Homo sapiens: one gene and its partners. The protein of the gene in region 4 interacts with the protein of the main gene of each other region in a pairwise test. Each region holds a gene or a part of one and is shown on either strand. Other genes may lie near its edges.

The links.
Region 1: the proteins of TEKTL1 (region 4) and MESD interact in binary tests that used the Homo sapiens proteins (3 or more experiments, as listed by UniProt).
Region 2: the proteins of TEKTL1 (region 4) and MAGEA11 interact in binary tests that used the Homo sapiens proteins (3 or more experiments, as listed by UniProt).
Region 3: the proteins of TEKTL1 (region 4) and BRAP interact in a two-hybrid assay, tested with the Homo sapiens proteins (one study listed by BioGRID and IntAct).

What each region holds. Positions count from the first base shown.
Region 1 is NC_000015.10:80,975,235-80,979,843, forward strand, and holds the end of MESD (LRP chaperone MESD precursor), read right to left. Parts: intron 4,244-4,609; coding exon 3,985-4,243; 3' UTR 518-3,984; downstream 1-517. UniProt on the Homo sapiens protein: Chaperone specifically assisting the folding of beta-propeller/EGF modules within the family of low-density lipoprotein receptors (LDLRs).
Region 2 is NC_000023.11:149,707,192-149,715,061, forward strand, and holds the start of MAGEA11 (melanoma-associated antigen 11), read left to right. Parts: upstream 1-4,868; 5' UTR 4,869-4,971; intron 4,972-5,951; 5' UTR 5,952-5,968; coding exon 5,969-6,064; intron 6,065-6,078; exon of another isoform or gene 6,079-6,835; coding exon of another isoform or gene 6,836-6,907; intron 6,908-7,289; coding exon 7,290-7,385; intron 7,386-7,870. UniProt on the Homo sapiens protein: Acts as androgen receptor coregulator that increases androgen receptor activity by modulating the receptors interdomain interaction. May play a role in embryonal development and tumor transformation or aspects of tumor progression.
Region 3 is NC_000012.12:111,682,916-111,690,395, reverse strand, and holds the start of BRAP (BRCA1-associated protein), read left to right. Parts: upstream 1-4,439; 5' UTR 4,440-4,603; coding exon 4,604-4,685; coding exon of another isoform or gene 4,686-4,808; intron 4,809-7,088; coding exon 7,089-7,250; intron 7,251-7,480. UniProt on the Homo sapiens protein: Negatively regulates MAP kinase activation by limiting the formation of Raf/MEK complexes probably by inactivation of the KSR1 scaffold protein.
Region 4 is NC_000019.10:15,020,688-15,023,779, forward strand, and holds the end of TEKTL1 (tektin-like protein 1), read left to right. Parts: intron 1-665; coding exon 666-832; intron 833-928; coding exon 929-1,024; intron 1,025-1,118; coding exon 1,119-1,232; intron 1,233-2,183; coding exon 2,184-2,432; 3' UTR 2,433-2,589; downstream 2,590-3,092. UniProt on the Homo sapiens protein: Microtubule inner protein (MIP) part of the dynein-decorated doublet microtubules (DMTs) in sperm flagellar axoneme, which is required for motile flagellum beating.

The DNA of each region.
Region 1 (4,609 bases), on a different chromosome or scaffold from region 4:
CCTAGCCAGGCATAGTGGTGCATGCTTGTAGTCCTAGCTACTCGGGAGGCTGAGGCAAGAGGATGGCTTGAACTCAGGAGTTTGAGGCTGCAGTGAGCTATGAACACACCACTGCACTCTAGCCTGAGTGAGACAGCAAGAGACCCTGTCTCTTAAAAAACAAACAAACAAACAAAAAACTTCCAGGGAAAAAAGCAAGGCTCAGAAATGTCCTACCCTGCATGCTCTTGTCCAAGCATAAAGGCGGACACTGTGGGTGCAGAAGGTGGATATTATGTATCTTGTCAGTATACAAACACTATTAAACAATAATCAGGGACACAGGAAAAAGTTTGTGAGTTCCTTTCCCTTGTTCAGTGGTTAATGCATACTAAGTTGGTTTAATTTAAAAAAAAAAAAGAGGTTTAACAGTATAAGGGAAACCACCAGAAGTACAAAAGCCACAGTATCACCATCAAAACCAGAAAGCCTGAGGATGAAGAAGGAAAGATGTGTATATCTGATACAGGTTTCATAATTGATAGTCAAAAGATATCATCCAAATTTATTAGATCACTAGATATTAAAACAAACAAGACAAAAAGGAAGACAAATTCATTAAAAACAGGACATTTCTCCCAGCTATTTGGGAGGCTGTGGTGGGAAGATCAATTGAGCCGGTAGGTAGAGACTTCAGTGAGCCGTGATCCTACTGCACTCTAGTGAGGGCAACAGAGTGAGACCCTGTCTCAAAAACAAAAACAAATGACATTTCTCTTAAAAAATTTTTGTTTCGTTTTTTTGAGACAGAGTCTCATCCCGTCATCCAGGCTGGAGTGCAGTGGCCTGATCTTGGCTCACTGCAACCTCCGCCTCCCGGGTTCAAGCCATTCTCCTGCCTCAGCCACCTGAGTAGCTGGGATTACAGGCCCGCACCACCACACTCGGCTAATTTTTAGTAGAGACAGGGCTTCACCATGTTGGCCAGGCTGGTCTCAAACTCCTGACCTCAACTGATCCACCCACCTCGGCCTCCCAAAGTACTGGGATTACAGGCGTGAGCCACTGTACCCAGCCCAACATTTCTTTTGCTCATGAATCTGCAGACTGGGCAGACTGTTTCTCAGCTCAGCTTATGTTGGCTCCCCTCAGTGTCAACTAGGATTGCTTGAAGGCTGGGGCTGGAAATGTTTAAATCTTATCCACATGTCTGTGCCTGGGCTGGGAAGACTCATGCAGCTGGGGTTGGAGCAGGTGGGCCTCCTGGGTATCCCTCTCTCTACGTGAAACACTGTACGCAGCCTCTCCAGTATGGTGGCTTCAGGGTAGCCAATTAAGATATGGTTTTACAATCTATTAAACTGGTAAATGTGATGCCCAAGGCTGGCAAGGATAGATCTATTGTTGGCAAGGGTAAGCTGACTAAACCACTTGGGAGGGCAATTTGGCAATACACACCAAAATGTTAAATTCCGTTTGCTCTAATAATTCTACTGCTAGGAATTTACCTTTCAGATATAAACAAAAGTGTACCGAAATATTTTGTATGAAAATGTCCACTGCAGCACTGAATATACCAGCAAAAAATCTGAACACTCAAGTGTCCATCAGCAGGGACTATGCAGTGAAACAGTGGTTCAAACCTCACCATCACCCTGCTGATGTAGGACACCTTCAGCTATGGCCTGCACTACTGAAGCACCTCCCAGCTCACGGCTCACACCTGCTGGGGTCCTCTTCTGATCACTTCTCCTGTGCAACCAGTGCAACCTGGACTGCCTTTCACACCCACCCCATCACAATTAAGATCCACCAGGGCGTCCCAAACTCCTACCAAACTCCATGTGCTACGCTCCTCCAACCTGGGCCTGCACTGGGCCCCAGCCTCCCCGCTGGCCTTCCTGCTGCCTCTCCCTCTGCCACTTCTAGCCACAGGGTCTTAGCTCAGACTGTTTCCTCTGCCTGCCTTACTCTATTTCTCCTCTCCTCCTCTTGCCCTCAGAGAAGGCCTCTGGTTTTCTTAACCTGGTCAGGGAAGATTCTACCTCCCCCTACCCTGCCCCTTTCATACTTCTAACAGCTGCCATTTTACTTTGTACATTACTGACATTTGTCTTCCCCCACCGAATCATTGAGTTTTACGATAGCAGAGGCTGTATCTACACCGTCCTGGCACCTTGTAGTACCTAGTACATAACAGACACACAGAAACTACTGGGTGAAGTGGGGGCACACTGCACAGGAAACAATGAGACAGATCTGCACATTCTGACATGGGAAGGCTCCTAAGTGGAAACAGAAGGTACAGGGCGGAGTGAAAGCTTTGCTACCTTTTGCTTAATTAAAGCAATTATCTCATCAAAACAGCTGCTTTATACTGGGCCATTATGGCTATGCAGGACAGTAACCCCATCAAACTGCCCTGAGTACAACAGAAAAAGCCCACAGACAGGGCTTGGTTCAGCCACGGCATGATTCAGGGACTCGTTTATGCCACCAGGGTGTGGCGCTCTCTCCCCACTGTCAGACAGTTCTCTTCTCCAAGGGCGGGGCCTACAACAGCTCCCGCTCCAGGTTCAAGATGCAGGAGGAACAAGAAAAGCCTCTTTCAGGGCCTAGTACCCTAGTACGGTAGATCACACAGGCCTCACCCTGGAGAGGGCATGGCCTGGAGGGTGGGGGGACTGCAGGGCAAATGTCCCATCCAAAGCAGAGAACTGAGAATGCAGAGGGTGTGGTTCTTTCGAGGGAAATGTGAGCAGCTACCAAATTAAGGGGAAACAGATGCTGTGAGGCCAAAACAAACATACATCACCATAAGTACATTTACATAAGTAAATGTACTTTTTTTTGGTGGATGGGCAGGGAGGGGGATGTGGGGGCACAAATTGTTAACAGCAGCTTCCACTGGGACAAGCTACCACCGGCGGCAAGAGAGGGATACACTTTTCACTTTGTACCATTCTTTAACACTGACATTTTCTAACCATGTAATGTGCTACTTTTAATTTATTAAAATCACAATTGAGGGTTTTTCCCAAAGAATTTTAGTTCTTAGAAATGACATCTGTATATAAATGTTCTAACTCTTATTCACAGTAGGCTCTAACATGAACGGCAAAATCAGACATCAACAGTAGCACATCATGTTACTCTATACGAAAGCACAGATTTAGGCACTTTATCAAAGAAAAATGTTTAGAAACAAATGAGGTTATTGAGTCGTCTGTCACACTCTGCAAAGGACTCTGATTCCCTACTTAAATCCTTTAAAACTGTCACATTAAATGGAACATATAACCCCTCGACACCAGCAGTACTCTTTCCTAAATAAGGAAACAAAACAGAACCCCTAACTTTACAGACCACATAAAACCTGACAGACACCAAGAGTTCTCTTACTGATGAGTAAGATTCAAGTCAAAGAAATTCAAAACTACTTAGGATTTCAAGTGACATATTTTCTATTCTCCGCATTTCCTGCATAGATTTTGGATTTACACACCCTGGCTTCCTGGCTACAGACATCTGAGTTCACAAAGCATATTTTACCTTTAACATAATGAAAATGATGTATATGGCATGAAGAGTTTACTCAATTAAGTCAAGAGTTTTAAAGTCTTCTCTGATCAGAATTTGCTATCTGATCAGAGCAGGCCACCCAATCACAGCAGGTGCTTGGAGGGGAGTGGAATCTCAGTAGAGTTGATGACTCACCAAGTGTAAATGGGAAAAAGCAACACAGTCACATTTCCATGTAAGGAGATTTTATAGTAAACATGAATTTGTCAGTGTCCAGTATTAATTAGAAAACATCTGTCTTCTTACTTGAAGCCTATTAAGCAGTAATTCTTTGACCACAAACTGGTCATGTGGCAGACCCTTTCTAGAAGACACTAGAATGTCATCCGGTGTGCAGTTGCCTGAGACCACTCCCACCCCAGGAGCTGGGCAAAGAGCTCTCCACGTCCACCTGTCCCCCCACAGCGCGTCACTGCTGCCCCATCACAGGTCTTCTCTTTTATTCCCAGCTCGATTTTCTTCCTTGGAAGACCGAGATTTCAGATCTCCTTCCTTCTTTTTTTTGCCCTTGTCTTGCTTTGTTTTATTTTTCTCTTTGCTTCCTCCTCCTTTGCCGGGGTACACCTGGCCCTCCAGAGTTACATCAGCACACCTGTCTTGACCGACCAAAAAGTCCTTGATCTCCCAGGCGTAGCTCCCATCGCGAAGCATGAAGATAGCACGGTCTGATCCCACAATGAACCTTGGGCAGAGAGATGCAATCAGTCAGCCAGCACGTACTAGTAAGGTGCTAAGGGGTCAGAGCAATTCTCTGGCACTTATCAGTTTATTTCAAATTCTACATGAATATGGAATGAAAAATTGGATTTTCCAAAGCCTAGCAGCTACTGATATCTCATGTATTAAAATACTAGCTTGCTGAACTATTAAACATCCAGCTCAGATCAAAATAGAAACAGACACTGGATGTTCCTTTGTTGTATAAATGGATGCCCGTGTTAAAAGTGAACATTTGGAAAACCTCCCTAGGACACTGCAGAGGTGGCTCAGGGGCTGCTGCTGGGGAGGTAAAGAGGCAGCTTCGATCTGATCTGTATCTGTTTTATAT
Region 2 (7,870 bases), on a different chromosome or scaffold from region 4:
GACCATAGAACTGGCAGTTCTTTATTCATTCCATAAATGAATACTGAGCATGTATTGTGTGCCAGGCACTGTCCTGGGCTCTGAGGATACAATATTGAACACATTTCCTCCCTAGGTGGAACTTACATTCTAGTGAGGTAAAGGGTAGGCACACAATAAATCATGAAACAAACTTAAAGGTGCAGTAGATTTAATGGTTAACTTCCAAATCACCTTTGGTAGGCTTCCAAATGAACTCACCTGGGGGAGGTCTTGTGATTTCTGTTGCCATCCTGTCCCTCAGTAAAGTGTCTTATCCTGCATTCCACAAATTGTTTACATATGGATTAATATGTAATGTACCAACATTGAAAAGTTTGCTGATTTATTTTTAAATCATGAAATTTTACTGGTTGTTTTGCACATGGACATTTTAGTCTGTATGTTGCAATTTGGTACAATGATTCTAACCTCCGTATTGTATCCTCTAATAAAAAACGACAACTGCCATATAAAAAGTTCTCTCTTGTTCTAAACTCTCATAAAACCCTTCCAACTTGTAAGACTCTCCAGAACACTCCCAACTTTGTTGGTTTCTCCTCCCAGGTCAGTCCTCACATTTGGCTTCCAATAAACATTTATCCTCTTATTTTTGCCTAACCAGTCTTAATTTTGGTTGACATGGTGATAAATACTATGGAAACAAATTGAATCTAGAGAACTGAATAAGTGTTTGGGATGAGTTAAGAGGGAGGATTGCAATTTTAGAAAGGGTATTCACTTTTTAATGAGGTTATTTGTTTTTGTTTGTTCAATTGTTTAAGCACCTTATAGATTCTGAATATTAGACCTTTGTCAGATGCGTAGTTGGGGAATATTTTCTTCCATTCTGCAGGTTGTCTGCTTACTCTGTGGATAGTTTCTTTTGCTGAGCAGAAGCTTTTGAGTTTAATTAGGTTAACTTGTCAATTTTTGTTTTAGTTGCAATAGCTTTTGAGAACATAGTCATAAATTATTTCCCGAGGGTGATATCCAGAATGGTGTTTCCTAGGTTTTCTTCTAGGATTCTTGTAGTTTGAGGTCTTACATTTCAATCTTTAATCCATGTCGAATTAATTTTTGTATATGATGAAAGGTCAGGATCCAACTATTGGGTACTATGCTCACTACTTGAGTGACGGGATCAATAATATCACAAATCTCAGCATCTCACAATATACCCATGTAACAAAGTTGCACACGTACCCCCTGAATCTAAAATGAAAGTGAAATTACAAAAATAAATAATAAAGACACAAATTCTATGAAGAAAAAGAAAGGTTATTCATAGAAGGCCTCACAGAGAAGATATTTGGAGAGAGACCCAAGGGTGTCTGGAAAGCAGTATTAGCTAGCAGTATTATAGGAGCATGTGTCTAGAAGAGAACAAAGGCGTGCAGTACCTCAGGACCCTGGAACAGAGAGTAGGAGGTAGGGGTCTAGGGAGGCTGGTCTATTGAAGCCAGACCCTTTTCTCTGAGCCATAGGCTGTCTCAGAGCCAGGTCAGCTGCACTGTACCATGAACTGGCTTATTGGATCCAGTATTCTATCCAAGGTTACTGAGTTGGTTTACATTATTCCAGCATTTGAGACGTGGGGTAGGTAGAAGTATAGTTGGAAACAGATTAGTAATGGATTGAAGATTTTTGATGCTGAATATCAAGTATATTGGGTATATTATACTATACTATTTTACATGTCTGACACTTTAATAAAGTTATTTCATCATAATATCATGCCATTAAATTTGAAATCCTAAGTGAAATGAACTATATTTTATAAAAAAAAAAAAATGGCCCGGCGCAGTGGCTCACGCCTGCAATCCCAGCACTTTGGAAGGCCGAGACAGGTGGATCACGAGGTCAGGAGTTCGAGACCCGTCTGGACAATATGGTGAAACCCCGTCTCTACTAAAAATACAAAAATTAGCCGGGTGTGGTAGCGCACACCTGAAATCCTAGCTACTCAGGAGGCTGAGGCAGGAGAATTGCTTGAACCTGGGAGGAGGAGGTTGCAGTGAGCTGAGATTGTGCCATTGCACTCCAGCCTGGGCGACTGAGCGAGACTCTGTCTCGAAAAAAAAAAAAAAAGATCAAATTGGTCCATAAAGAAACAGAAAACTTTAATCAAACATTACAAACTAAAACTGTATTCTCAGTTCAAGCCACCCACAAATGATCCAGGAAAAGAAAGTTTCAGAGGCCAGTTTTACCAAATAATTAGAACTCATTGCCATCCTAAGCAAACTCTTAAAAACCATACAAAAAGATGGGCAACTGTGGAACTCATTTTCTGAGACTAGTGTTCTTTGTTTCAAATACCAGAAGAGGACCTCACCATGAAAAGAACACTTAAACCAAAGTTACTCACATAGCAACAAATATCCTAAATAAATTAATAGCCAATTCATTAGGGCAGTGTACTAAATGGAAAAACGGGATATATCCAAAGAATGAAAATACAATTTGACATTAAAATATACCTTCAGTGTGATTCCCTATATTAACAAGATTATAGAGGCAAAACATATGATCATATTAATGGATACAGAAAAATATTTTGAAAAAATTAGTAATCATCCATGATAAAAATAACTAGAAAATTAAGAGTAGAAGGAAATTTTGTTTCATCAAATTGATAGCAAATATACTTAATTGTAAAATGTTGGACGCATTCATGTCAGGCACAGGTCATAAATGTATGCTATCATTGCTATTTTTCAAAGTTGTATTGGAATACAAAGCCACAGATATGGATACCAAAATAAATAAGAGGTATGTGTATTGGAAAGAAAGAGTGATATTTGGTAGGGTAATGCAACAGTCTATCTAGAAAATTCAAAAAAATGCACACTTGAAATAGTCAAATGAATAAGAGACGTGTGAAAAATAGCGAACAGAAGATCAATAAAGCAAAATCAAAAGATTTGCAAAACAGACAATAACTATTAAGAACAGGTCATAGAAAATACCCCATTCACAATAGCAACAATATCCAAAAATTACCTAACAAGAAGACTAACAAAAGCATGTATGATTTTTACTGAGGCAACTATACAAGTACTGATATATCCAGTTCAAAGAGCACCCAAATAAACAAGGCAGTATATGATATCATTGATAGGGAACAGAATATTGCAAAGATGGCAATTCTATTTTTTCAAAAATTGACAGACGTAATTCCTTAACCAGCCAAGATGACTGTCAAGCTCAGGCATCTGTTGGTTTTTGATTGTTTGGTTTGGTTTTGTTTTTTTGAGACAGGACCTCACTCTATTTCCAAGGCTGGAGTGCAGTGGTGTGAACACAGCTCACTGCAGCACTGACATCCTGGGCTCCAGTGATCCTCCCACCTTAGCCTCCCTACCAGCTGGGACTGCAGTCACACGCCACCACACCCAGCTAATTTTTCATTTCTTTTTTCTTTTTCTTTTTCTTTCTTTCTTTTTTTTTTGAGATGGGGTCTTGTTATGTAGTTCAGATTAATCTTGAGCTACTGGGCTCAAGTGATCCTCCTGCCTTGGCCTACCAAAGTGTTTGGATTACAGGTGTGAACCACCGCGTTCAGTCTTGGGCTTCTATCTTAGACTCCCCAAAACAACCCGGGAAAACTAAAGAATAAAAATAAATAAATAAAGGAACAAGCAAACAATATCAAAAAAGAAATCTAAACAAAAAAAACATGAGAGAGCCCTGAGAATTTCATTGTATTTTGAAGGAATACTTGTGATTGGCGGGGAAGAGTGGCAGGGAAGTTGGGGTGGATAGGAAGAAAGAAATGTTTAAAATTCTGCCCCTACTTCACTGTGGAAAACTCGGGTAGGGTCTCAGACCACAGGTGCCAGTAGTCATGGGGTAACTTCAGGACATGAGGAAACACTGGTTGATTAAAGGAATACGGCTGGAATTTGTGCTGATAACCACTAAAACCACGTCAGTAAATAAAGATTGGCTTTTTAAAAATTATCGTTTTAATTGAAGATAAAGAATGGATTAAATTAGAGTATTGACCATTAGAGTGAAATAGGCAGTTAGGTTAAGTATGATTTTTGACACTGAATGAGAATTAAAAAATGAAAATCACTAAAATGAACTATGAAGTGTTAGATAAATTCTAAACGCAGGACTTCCGCAAATTTCTTGCAGCCACTCAGCCTCTTCAGTGTAAAAATAAAGCTTTCAGGGCAAAAGTTTGCAAAGTCTAGATCTGGCTGGGGAGGAGCCCCCGTAGGAAGGTGTGCATCTTCTCCCAGAGGTCACTACAATCACGGGTACTGAAGCCACATGGAAGCACCTAGCCTGGGATCCGCAGCTATTGTCTGCAAGGGGTGCAGTTGGGCAATGCTCAGAGGTGACAGAAACAGAGCATCTCCCACCCATCACTTCATGAAAGAACCAGTAGCCAAGAGGAGGACCCTCCTGAGTGAGGACTGACGGTCCACCCTCCCCACATAGAGGGGCCACAGAATCCAGCTCGGTCCCTCCTGTCAGCCCCGGAAGACCTTGGCAATGTTGTCCCCCGACCTCACACCTCCCGCTCACTGCCACCTCAGGGGACTCAGAGTCAGAGACTTGGTCCGAGAGGAGCAGACATCATTGGCAGAGGACGGAGCTCCAGGCTCTGCAAGGAATCAAGGTCAGAAACCTGAGGGAGGACTGAGGCACCCCCATGACCCTCGACCACATCTGCACCCCTCGCCACTACTTTTCCCCCTGCCCCACCCCGCCCCGCCCCGCCTCGCCTCGCCCCGCCCCGCCTCGCCTCGCCCCGCCCCCACACGGGCAGAATCGGGTTCGCTCCTGCTGTAAATCCAGGGAAGCTCCAGGCGTGGGGGCCGGATGTGACCTCCATTGGCTTCCGCCTCTGGGATCTGAGAGAAGCGAAAGCGTCTTTCTGAGGGGTGTCTTGAGAGTGGCAGAGGGCAGCGGGTCCAGGCTCCATGAGGAGGCAAGGTGAGAGCTGAGGGAGGACTGAGGAGTCCTCCTACCCAGATAGAGGGCCCCAAATAATCCAGCGCCAACCCTGGAGCCAGCCCTGAAACAACAGGGGACCAAATTATCAGGCTGAGACAATCCCCCTCCTCAATGCCCAAGGAGACTCTGCGAGTCTATGGTGTGACCCGGGCAGAGGCAGTTCCATAAAGGGTGGGGCCCCGGCCTTTCCAGGCATCAACATCAGGACTCTGAGAAATTATGGAGAGGTTCCACCCCATCCTGATAGAGGGGCCACAAAGTCCATCCTTGTCCCTGCAGACAACGCAAAGGACCTCCGGGCTTGGTACTGCGGAGTTGCACATTAGGGGGTCAGAGAGAAGTGATAGCCCGGTTCTGAAGGGCGGCTTGTGACCTGCTGAGGGCAGCGGGCCCAGGCTCTGTGAGGAGGCAAGATGAGATGCTGAGGGAGGACTGAGGATGCTCCCTACCCAGATAGAGGACCCCAGATAATCCAGCACCGCCTCTGCTGCCAGCCCTGGATCACCCCATGGGGATGGACTTCTCAGGCTGGGCCGTCCCCTCTGACACCCCCCTCGGCTTCTGCCCCCCGCCGCTTAAGCCTCAGGGGACTGTGGGGTCAGAGCTTGGTGTGACCAGGGCAGGGCTGGTTGGGGGGGGCAGGACCCAGGTTCTGCCAGGCATCAAGGTCAGGACCCCGAGGGAGGGCTGAGGCCCCACAGAGCAAGGCTCCCTCTCTGCTGTCAGTCCTGGGAAGTTCCTGGCATTGCTGCCAGGCAAGTGGATCCTGATTTCCGCATCCTGGGCTGACAGAGGGAAGGGGCTTGGTATCATGAGAAAGACCTAGGGGGAGCACAGACAGGGCTCAGTCCCTGCTGGGAGGTGAGCAAGGCCTGAGGGACAACTGAAGGGACCCAGCACCCCAGAACAGCCCCCCCCCATAGTCCCGCCGTCTCAAACTGAGGTGCCTTTTCATTCAGCCTTGGGAATCTGAGGGATGGAGACTCAGTTCCGCAGAGGGGGTCTGGGGTGCAGCCCTGCCAGCATCAAGAGGAAGAAGAAGAGGGAGGACTCAGGAGACTTTGGACTCCAGGTCAGTAGGGACCTTGGCCCTTGGAGTTCCAAGGCACGGTGGCCACATGTGGTGCATCCTCACTCTGCCTTTGGGGTGTCAGCAAGGAGTGGGTTGTGGTCTGAGGAGTGGAGCCTCAGGTCAACCCAGGGAGGAGTCCCAGAGGGAGGACTCAGGCAACCAATTATCCCTGAGGTAGAAAACCTGCCCCTGCCATCGGTCCTTGGAGGCCCCAAGCAGGACTCTAGGAAAGAGAGGCAGCTCCCCACTTCCTAGTTGGGGTTCTCTGGGAGATGGTGGTCGTGGCCTGCAAAACTCATCCACAGTTCAGCAGGAGAGACATGGATAGGCCTTGTCAGGAGTAAATCTGAATACCTGGAGGAAACCCAGAGAGAGGAGGCACCCCTGAAATCTGCTTCATCTGTCAGCCTTTGGCATCCCATGAGGGGTGTCCATGTAGTGCCCCTTCACTTTCTGCCTCCCATATCTCAGAGAGGTGGGGCCCTTGGTCTGAGGCAGGTCCTCAGGTCAGCAGAGGGATACACACCTGGTCAGCACAGGGTGGAGTCCAGGATCTGCCAGTAGTCAAGGAGAGGAAAATTGATGAAGACTGAAGGTAAGAATGTACCCTCCCACATGCCAAAGAAAAAGGGACCTCACCAATCCTTGCTTCCTCTGTTTTCATCCCTCGGAGGCCCAAGTTGGGGAGGCATGTGCCATGCTCACATTTCTGCCACGAGGTTGGGGGTGGCACCTTGCTCAGGGAGGTGAGCACCTTGTTTCAAGGGGGTGATGACAGGTCAGCAGGTGGAGCCACACCTGATCAGCAGAGGGAGGAGTCCCAGGATCTTTAGGACTCAAGGTGTATGTGTCCCCTTGGTGAGGACTGGAGATACCCACATCCCATAATGAAGGGATCCCACAGAGTCTCTCTGTCCCCTGTCCTTGGCTGTGTGGGGACCTCATCACGGGTGGCCCCAAGTGGCAAGGTCACTTGTACCACAGGCAGAAAGTTGGGAAACCTTCAGGGAGATGAGGTCTTGGTGTAAAGGGATATGTCTGCTCATCTCAGGGGTTGGGAGTCAAGGAAGGACAGGCCCTGGCAGAAGTAAAGATGAAAAACCCACAGGAGGACTTTGGAATCCCCAGAACCGAAGGGTCCAGCCTCTGCTGTCAGCCCTGGACAACCACATGATGGGGTGATGGGACGTGGGGCCCCTTACTTCTGTTTTGGAATCTTGGGCAGGTGAGCACTATGTTCTCAGAGGACGACTTCCAGTCAACAGAAAGAGCCCCATATGGTCCACAACTACAGTGGTCCCAGGATCTGCCAAGAGTCCAGGTGAGAAACCTGAGGGAGGATTGAGGGTTCCTCCTGGCCAGAACACAGAGGGCTGCTTAGAAATCTGCTCTGCCCCTGCTGTCTCCCCAGAGAGCATGTGCAGGACTATGTGCTGAGACCCCTCTCTTATACTGGGATCATTGGTCTCAGGGAGCGGGAGACATTGGTCTGAGAGGGCTGCACTTAGGTCAGCAGTGGGAGGGTCCCAGGCCATGACCAGAATCAAGGTGGGGGCTGACGGGACAGCACTTACCAAAAACATGGGACTCAGCCCTTCCCTGCCCCTTCTGTCAGCTATGGGAAGTCCCTGGGACCATGGGTGTTTCTATTTCCCTGATTTCCTCTTCTGATATCTCCTGGAGGTAGAGCTTTGGTTTAAGGAGATGGCGTCAGGTCAACAGAGGGAGGGTCCCAGGCCAAGATAGGCATCAAGATGGGAACCAAACAGGCTCCTTACCCGAGGACACATGGACCCTGCTGACTGT
Region 3 (7,480 bases), on a different chromosome or scaffold from region 4:
AATTCCACACGTAAGTACTTAACACAAACTTTGTTTCATGCACAAAATTATTTAAAATATTGTATAAAATTACCATCAGGCTAGGTGTATAAGATATATATGAAACATATATATATAAGTGAATTTCATGTTTAGCCTTGGGTCCCAACCCCAAGATATCTCATTATATATACGCAGATATATCAAAATCCAAAATCTGAACTACTTCTGGTTCCAAACATTTGGGACAAGGGATACTCAACCTCTATAAGCACCTAGAGAAAGGACTCTTAAGTGGTAAATCTTGAATATAATGTGTTTCTCATCTATAGTCAGCCCTCTGTATTTGTGAGTTCCACATCTGCAGATTCAGCCAACTACAATAGAAAATATTCGAAGTAAGGCCGGGTGCAGTGGCTCACGCCTGTAATCCCAGCACTCTGGGAGGCCGAGGCGGGCGGATCACAAAGTCAGGAGATTGAGACCATCCTGGCTAACACGGTGAAACCCCATCTCTACTAAAAATACAAAAAATTAGCCGGGCGTGGTGGTGGGCACCTGTAGTCCCAGCTACTCAAGAGGCTGAGGCAGGAGAATGGTGTGAACTGGGGAGGCGGAGCTTGCAGTGAGCCGAGATGGTGCCACTGGACTCCAGCCTGGGCAACAGAGTGAGACTCCATCTCAAAAAAAAAAAAAGAAGAAAATATTTGAAGTAAAACAAAACAAAACAAACACACACAGTAAGGGCACAGTAACTGACGCCTGTAATCCCAGAACTTTGGGATGCTAATGTAGGCGGATCACCTGAGGTCGAGAGTTCGAGACCAACCTGGTCAACATTGTGAAGCCCCGTCTCTACTAAAAACACAGAAAAAAAATTAGCCAGGCGTGGTGGCGCACACCTGTAATCCCAGATACTCGGGAGGCTGGGACATGAGAATCACTTGAACCAGGGAAGTGGAGGTTGCAGTGAACCAAGATTGCACCACTGCACTCCACATTCCAGCCGGGGTTATAGAGTGAGACTCCATCTCAAAAACAAACAAAAACCAACAAAAATAACAACACAACAATAAAAAATGCAAACAAAAAATACAGGTTAACAACTATTTATTTACACAGTACTTACACTGTTTTAGGTATACATACATATATATGCATGTATATATATTTATATATTTTGATATGGATATGATTTGATATATATATTAAATATATATATTTTTTGATATGGAGTCTCCCTCTGTCACCAGGCTGGAATGCGGTGGCATGATCAGAGCTCACTGCAACCTCCACCTCCTGGGTTCAAGCGATTCTCCTGCCTCAGCCTCCCGAGTAGCTGGGATTACAGGTGCGTGCCACCACGCCTGGCTAATTTTTGTGTTTTTACTGGAGACAGGATTTCACCATGTTGGCCAGAATGGTCTCGATCTCTTGACCTCATTATCCACCCACCTTGGCCTCCCTAAGTGCTGGGATTACAGGCGTGAGCCATCGTGCCCAGCCAGTATTATAAGCAATCTAGGGATTACTTAACTCATATCTTGCTTGCCCTGAGAATACTGTGCTGGCAGCGAGCTGCACTTTTTTTGCTTTCTTTTTTTTGTTTTGTTTTGAGACGGAGTCTTGCTCTGTCGCCCAGGCTGGAGTGCAATGGTGTGATCTCGGCTCACTGCAACCGCCTCCCAGGTTCAAGCTATTCTCTTGCCTCAGCCTCCCGAGTAGCTGAGACTACAGGCGCTCGCCACCACATCCAGCTAATTTTTTGTATTTTTATAGTGGAGACGGGTGTTAACCATGTTGGCCAGGCTGGTCTCGAACTCCTGACCTCAAGTGATCCACCGGCCTCGGCCTCCCAAAGTGCTGGGATTGCAGGCGTGAGCCACCACACCAAGTCAAGTACTTTTTTTTTCTAAATGGGAAATGGGTTAAAGCATATAGGAGGGTGTACATAGGTTATAAACAAATGCTACACCATTGTATATCAGGAACTTGAGCATCCACAGATTTTGGCATCTGCAGGGGGTCCTGCACCCATCTGCTGAGGATACCACCATGCAACGACAGTAATTGGAAATTTGCTGAATTTGGGGGCAATATTTGAAACTAAAAATGTCAAGGTTCATTTGCATTTTCAGTTTTACTTAACGTTCCTATGCCAAGGCCAATGTTTATGATAGAAAGAGAAATTTACTTACACACTTGTATATTTTGTGTGAGGGCTTAGTAGAGACGAAAAATGCCTTTGGGGGGGCCGGGCGCGGTGGCTCACGCCTGTCATCCCAGCACTTTGGGAGGCCGAAGTGGGCGGATCACAAGGTCAGGAGTTCGAGACAAGTCTGACCAACATGGTGAAACCCTATCTCTAAAAAAAAATACAAAAATCAGCTGGGTGCAGTGCTGTGTGCCTGTAGTCCCAGCTACTTGGGAGACTGAGGCAGGAAGCTTGAACCCAGGAAGCCGAGGTTGCAGTGAGCCGAGATGGCACCACTGCACTCCAGCCTGGGCGACAGAGTGAGACTCCGTCTCAAAATACAAAAAAAAAAAAAGGTTTGTTTGGTAAAGAGATAAAGAATGTTCGTTCTGGATTCAGATTGCCTGAATTTCAGTTCCAGCTCTGCCACTACTACCTGTGAAATCCTGAGCCAGTTACTCTTCCTCCAAGCCTCAGGTTACTCCTCTGTAGAACAGGGACATAGTACCAGTTTCATAAAGTTGTTGTGACCATTGCATGACACAAGGTATATGAAACACTCAAATTAGTACCTGGCACATGTTGAAATGTTATCTACTATAGTAATATACTAAAAAAGTTCACAAGAGGTCTCATAGGTTTTATGCATACAGTATGTGTGTATGGTTTATGCACTTTCACATAACCCTGTGATTCTTCAACAGGGTTATGTTTTCTAACCCCAAGGAGACATCTGGAAAGGTCCAGAGACATTATTGGTTGTCACCACCTGGGGAGAGGTGCTACTGACATCTAGTGGGTCAGGCCAGGGATGTTTCTAAACACTCTACAATGCTCAGGACACCCCGCCCCCTTGCCAAAAACAAAAAAGAATAATCAGGACCCAAAATGTTAATAGTGCAGAGTTGAGAAACCCTGATTTAAACAGGGCATATGGAAACGTATTTCATAGGATGTAGTCACAAGATCTATATACGCATGTATCTTGTGGTCATGTCATAGTCCAGATACACACACATCTAGAACGCACTATGTCCACACACACACACATCTAGAATGTACTATGTACTTACATATGTATCATTATACAATGTACCTAGAGTAGCATCCTGTCATGTATGTGTCCCATATGCATTGATTGTGTCAGTATCTACATACAAAAGCCACTCTGACATACTGGAAAGAATGCTGAGCCTCAGAAAAGCTAATGTTATCTCCATATACATAATTCCATTTCATCCTCACAACTGCATGAGGACATGATATCATGCCAACTTTATGCAATGACTATACTAGTTCAAGACTGCACAACTGCTGATGTAGGTCAACCTCATAGTACGGACAGGAACTGTGTTTATCTTATACGCCAACGTATCTCAAGCATCCCAAGGGTGTCTAGACTCTCAGTAAACATTTGTGAAGTGACAGGGTGGGGAGGAGGACCCCGGTCTAACTGCAGCACTATGCTCGTAACCAGCAGATCACCATCTTTTCTCTCTTTTTTTTGAGACGGAGTTTCGCTCTTGTTGCCCAGGCGGGAGTGCACTAGCACTATCTCGACTCACTGCAACCTCCGCCTCCCGGGTTCAAGCGATTCTCCTGTCTCAGCCTCCCAAGTAGCTTGGACTACAGACGCGCGCCACCAAGCCCGGCTAATTTTTTGTATGTTCAGTAGAGACGAGGTTTCACCATGTTGGCCAGGTTGGTCTCGAACTGCTGACCTGAGGTGATTCGCCCGCCTAAGCCTCTGGGCTGGGATTACAGGCGTGAGCCACCGCGCCCAGCCAGATCGCTATCTGAACAGCGATCGACTCTCCACTCTCTACGGCCCCTTAGAAGGAACTTCACCTCTCTGAGCCTCGTTGTACCTATCTGTAAAGTGGGACAGAAACAAAACCATCCAGACTAGGGTTAGAGACAGGAGTCAAACACAACAAAAGGGGCAAAGTTCTGCATAGCAGATAGCTCGGACAATTCGGAGACCTCGCGGAGCCAGGGATCCCGCGCCGTCAGCCGAGGTGGATTAGGACGAGGCCTCTGGAGCAAGCAGAGGTTAACTCGCGACTGTGCGAAAACCTGCAGCTCAGCCTAAGTGTGGCACCCCAGCGCAAGCAATCTCCACGACGTCCTTCCGCTCCGACCTCCTCAAAATTGCGTCCGGAAGAGCAGTGGGTGACCCCTGCCACGCCGCCCAATCGCTGTGCGCGGTCCTGCGCGCATGCGTAAACCGCAGGTCAGCGACGGCGGCCGGGAGGCGGAAGTGGAGGTTGTTGTGGCTCCGAGGGCTGTTCGAGGAGCTGCTGCTGCTGAGGCGGCGGCAACTGCATTGAGGTGGTGGCGGCGCTGCCGGCCCCGGGCCGCTCGGCCTCTCGGCTCGCCTTCCAGCCTCGCCTGAGCCCGCCGGGGCCCGCGCCGGCCAGCGCCTGCCCTATGAGTGTGTCACTGGTTGTTATCCGATTGGAGCTCGCGGAACACTCGCCTGTCCCCGCCGGCTTCGGCTTCAGCGCCGCGGGTGAGTCCCGCGGCCTCGCCGCATTCCCTGTAGCCGGGTCTGGGCCCGGAGGGCTTCCCTTCCCAAAGCACTGGCCCGGGAAAAGCCCGCGGCGAGGGCTGTTGCCCAGGAAGACACGGAGAGGTAATCGGGATCCCTCTCTTTCCCATCCGCCTTTGAGAGGCCTTCCCGTTTGTTATCTCAGGGAAGCCCTGCCCCGAACCTCCCTCCCTGTGCCGTCTGAGGGCATTTAGTTTATACCTGGCGCGTCTCCCTCTCGAGATAGTCGAGTGGTGTGTTTGTCTCACTTGCTTCCCTATGGGCTTCGTAAAGGCAGGGACTGGGTCCCCAGCAACGCTGGACGGTCCCTGGGTTAATTAAATTGTTCCCTTTTGGAACGATATCCATTGAAGTGCCCCCTAACCATAGTCATAACTAAAATTTGGACACTTCCTATATCCCAGCACTGTACTAAGCACCTTTTGTGTATTGTATTCTTTAATTATCTTTGCAACAGCCCTAAGAGGCAGATGGATGTGACATGTACCTCTTACACATTGGGAAACTGAAGCTTAGTGATTAATTGATTTGCCCAAGGTTATCTGTAATGGGTGAAACTGGGATTCTAACTCAGTGAGCTGGACTTGAGTCTGAGCTTTTTACACCATTAACACAAGTGAGGAAGCTCCTTAGTGGGGAATGCAGCTCTGGCTCTGTTCCTTGGTCCTCAGATAATTAACTAACATTCATTCAAGAAATACTTGGCCGGGCGCGGTGGCTCACGCCTGTAATCCTCACACTTTGGGAGGCCGAGGCGGGCGGGTCACCTGAGGTTGAGAGTTCAAGACCAGCCTGGCCAACATGGTGAAACCCTGTCTGTACTAAAAATACAAAAATTAGCTGGGCGTGGTGACAGGTGCCTGTAATCCCAGCTACTGGGGAGGCTGAGGCAGGAGAATCGCTTGAACCCGGGAGGTGGAGGTTGCGGTGAGCCAAGATTGTGGCACTGCACTCCAGCCTGGGCGACAAGAGATAAAGTCCATTTCAAAAAAAAAAACAAAAAAAAAACTTATGCTCATATCTGCTGGAGCCTTCCTTGTGTGCTGAATCAGACAGCGTCTCTGTTTTAATGGCACCAGCAGTATCATGGAGGAAACAGATGAATTAAATAAGTGCAGAATATGTGTAGAATTACAACTGTGGTAAGTGCTGTGAAGGAAAGGAGAAACAATTTGGGAAAGTATTACAAGAAGATGTGTTTGGTTTGGAGAGAGGGATGGGGGCAGGTAGGGATGGTGTCATTGGGAACTTCCTGAGGACGTGACCTTTGAAGCTGCAAATTAAAGATTGAATATGACTTTATAGCTTATGAGCACCTTTCCAAAGGCTAAAAGTGGCTTCTGAGTTCTGAGAGTCAGCTAAATTGATATTAGCCGCATATAGACATCTGCATGGGTCAGTCATGTAGTCATTTATTCATCAAACATTTAGAGGGCTTCCTCTGTGTGCTCGGCACTGTGGTATAAGGGCTGGGAATACAGTGGTGGGCAAAACAGGCCTTGTCCCTGCCCTGACAGAGCATGTATTAGGGATATTTCAGTTAAGTCTCCAAATTCCGTTTCCCTTTTCATGTGTTTCATTGATTTAAGACAGTAATCACAGATGTTCATGGCTTGGTTCATGGCATGAGCATAAGCCAGGATGTTTAAGACTACCCCTACAAGTTTTTGAAATTTTGTTTTTTTAATGGACTTGATAGCTTCATTTTGGGCTGAACACAATTTCATTTTATCAGGTGTTACTAAAATGTTAGCTCATCTGGGCATGATCACTGTTGCATCTTCTCTAAGGCTCCCTCTTTGGCGATTTGCTTTAAAGTGCATGATTTTGGGCCAGGCGCAGTGGCTCAAACCTGTAATTCCAGCGCTTTGGGAGGTCAAGGCGGGTGGATCACTTTGAGGCCAGGAGTTCGAGACCAGCCTGTCCAACATGGTGAAGCCCCATCTCTACTGAAAGTACAAAAATTAGCTGGGCGTGGTGGCACGTGCCTGTAATCCCAGCTACTCGGGAGGCTGGGGCAGGAGAATCACTTGAACCTGGGAGGTGGAGGTTGCAGTGAGCCAAGATCACACCACTGCACTCCAGCCTGGGTGACAGAGTGAGACTCTGTCTCAAAAAATAAAAATAAAGTGCATGATTTCAGTAGAACAGCCCTGCATTTCTGAGTATATTGTCCTGGCTGCTTATTGACTCTTTGCTGTGTACTGCAGTGGTCCCAGAGTTGAGTGAGATGGATACTACAAAGGCTTCTTATCATCTTGGCGGAAGGCAGGAGAAAGAAAAGGAAAACCTAATGATAGAGGAATAGAGAACAGAGAGGAGCTTGTTTTATTACCTTGTATTAATCATTCATGTGTTCTTTAGCCGGGGAAATGTCTGATGAGGAGATAAAAAAGACGACACTAGCCTCAGCTGTAGCCTGTTTAGAAGGCAAGTCACCAGGAGAGAAAGTAGCGATTATCCATCAGCATCTCGGCCGTCGAGAAATGACAGATGTGATCATTGAGACCATGAAGTCCAACCCAGGTATGCTTTCTAAAACCCTGGACTCTCTTTTGTAATGTGAACACTGGTTGCCTATTTTATACACGGTGTTTGATGAGCCTACAATTTCAACATCTAGCATACTTTTGTCTTTCACTACGTGTGTGCTTTATATGACACTGTTAAGCCACATGTTAGTGTTTCCAAATATTTCTTCCAAATTAATCCTAACAGTTGGAGTTGACAATTCAGTTCAGTGACGGGGGGGACTT
Region 4 (3,092 bases):
GGTGCCCACCCAGATCCCCTTGACTGTCAGTGCAGCCCGTCGCCCACTTAGCTGTCCCTTTCCTGGGAAATAGCCCTAGAGTCAATGGGAGGACTGAAAGCCTATCATGCTGAGCACACATTGTCACTCAGCTTTTCCCCCTGCACTCTCCTGCCCACACTCGCTGAGGACTCAGTCATTCACAGGCTCTGCTTTTTTTTTTTTTCCTTTGAGATGGAGTCTTGCTCTGTCACCCAGGCTGGAGTGCAATGGCCTGATCTCAGCTCACTGCAACCTCCGCCTCCCAGGTTCAAGTGATTCTCCTGCCTCGGCCTCCTGAGCAGCTGGGATTACAGGCGCCCACCACCACGCCCGGCTAATTTTTGTATTTTTAGTAGAGGCGGGTGTTTCACCATGTTGGCCAGGCTGGTCTCGAACTCCTGACCTCAGGTGATCCACCCGCCTCAGCCTCCCAAAGTGCTGGGATTACAGGTTACAGGCTCTGCTTCTAAGGAAACCAACCCAAGACGCTTCTTACACTATCCCCCGCGCCCCCTGGACTTTCACCCAGTTCCTCAATAAAACCCCCTCGCCCAGGGCCCACCACCACCTGAGAATAGAGAGAGGGACAGGGGCTCTGGGAACGGAGGACTTGGCACCCCCACGCGCATCCTGGGCATTTGCAGCGTGCGCCTTGGCGCTAAACGAAGCCAAGCGGTTGTTGGTCGAGTCCAAGGACACCTTGGTAGAAATGGCAAAGAACGAGGTGGACGTCCGGGAGCAACAGCTGCAGATAAGCGACCGTGTGTGTGCCTCGCTGGCGCAGAAGGCGAGCGAGACCTTGGAGCTGAAGGTGAGCGCATTACCTGCGGCTGCGGGCCAGGGTGGGACAGGGGAGGAGACGCGGACTGGGAGCCAGCGTGATCCCCCTGCGCTTCCCTGCCCCCAGGAAAGATTAAATATGACGTTAGGACTGATGAGGGGAACTATCCTCCGGTGTACGAAATATAACCAAGAGTTGTACACCACCCACGGTCTCATCAAGGTACGGTTCGGGGTGAGAGCCTTCGGGGGTGGAGGCAGGGGTGCCGGTGGCTGGAGGCTGGGTTTCAATGCGCTTGCACACCGCACCCCACCAGGGTCCTCTGTCGAAAGTTCACCTGGAGACCGCAGAAAAGCTGGACAGACCCCTGGTTCGCATGTACCAGAGACACGTGGGCACCCAACTCCCGGAGGCTGCGCGCCTCGCACAGGTAAACCCCCTCCCCCGTACCCCTCTAGGCCCAGCCCCGCCAATGGTAAGGCTCCTTCCTCAAGCACATCTGGACCAGGTATGATCCCCCTCTCACCCAAGTCGGCCTGTCCTTCAACTCCTGCCACGAAGTGGGGAGGCGGGGGCTTCACTGGGTACTGAAGTGGGTACTGGCGGGGGCTTCAGTGGGTACTGGCTCAAATAAGTCCCCTCAACCCCTGTCCTCCCCCCTCACACACACCCTCACTGTCCAGCTCTGGCCTTAGTCTCTCTAACCTGTAAAATGAGGAGCACGTCAGCACCCACTTCAAATGGTGGTGGTGAGGACAGATGAGTTCATGCATGAAAGGTGTGTAGCATGGCACCTGCATAGAATACCCTTAAAGCTGCCCAGCTGTTATTATTAACTATTATTGTTATTATTATTTGAGACAGACTCTCGCTCTGTCGCCCAGGCTGGAGTGCAGTGGTGCAATCTTGGCTCACTGCAACCTTCACCTCCCGGGTTCAAGCGATTCTCCTGCCTCAGCCTCCTGAGTAGCTGGGATTACAGGTGCGCGCCACCACACCCGGCTAATTTTTGTATTTTTAGTAGAGACAGAGTTCTGCTATGTTGGCCAGGCTAGTCTTGAACTCCTGACCTCAGGTGATCCGCCCGCCTCGGCCTCCCAAAGTGCTGGGATTACAGGTGTGAGCCACCGCGTCCGGCCCTGAGCTGTTATTATTAAGTACCCTTCCTAAGGAGGATCCTTCCTACACATCTTGACTAGATGCATTCCCCTCCCTCAGCCTGCCCTGTCGCGGTTTTTTTTTTTTCCAGGCACACCTGGCCCATTCAGATGTGTTCCCCTCCTCAGCTGTGTTCCTTACACACACACCTGGCGCAGGTGTGCCTTCCCACGCCAGGTAGCCATCTGCTCTGGCTCACGGGTCTGCCCTGCTCCCTATCCAGGGCACCGACAAGCTGCAGTGCCACATCACGTACCTGGAAAAGAACCTGGACGAGCTGCTCGCCACGCACAAGAACCTCAGCTGGGGCCTCAACTGCAAGAACATCGGGCATGAGGTGGACGGCAACGTGGTGCGCCTGCGCCTGCGCCAGCGGCAACCGCACGTGTGCTACGAGCAGGCGCAGCGCCTGGTTAAGGACTGGGACCCGCGCACGCCGCCGCCGCGCAGCAAGAGCAGCGCGGACCCCTAGTGACCCCAGCGTCCCCCGCCCCAGCCAGCTGATTGGATGCTGGCTGGGACCTCGGAGAGCAGACACAGCCCCATGGCCCTCCCTCTCCCCTGACGCACCCTCCCTCCAAGCACCCTCTAGGAGAATTATAATTAAAAATAACAATAATTATCATGTATTAGGCACCTACTGTATGTCAACCACTTACCCTAGGACACGTTATAAGCGCATATCCTGGTAGTTAATAGGATGGATTTGGGTGCCAGATGGCTGGGATTTAAATTCCAGCTTCCCAGTTTCAAGCTGTGTGGCCTTGGACAAGTCACTGTCCCTCTCTGGCCTTGGTCTCTCCAACCTGTAAAATGAGGAGCATGACAGCACCCACTTCAAATGGTGGTTGTAGGCGGGGCGCGGTGGCTCACGCCTGTAATCCCGGCACTTTGGGAGGCGGAAGCAGGCGGATCACCTGAGGTCAGGAGTTCGAGACCAGCCTGGCCAACATGATGAAACCCTGTCTCTACTAAAAATACAAAAATTAGCTGGGCCTGGTGGTGCGCACCTGTAATCCCAGCTACTAGGGAGGCTGAGACAGGAGAATCGCTTGAACCCAGGAGGCGGAGGTTGCAGTGAGCTGAGATCAAGCCACTGCACTCCAGCCTGGGTGACAAGAGCGAGACTCCG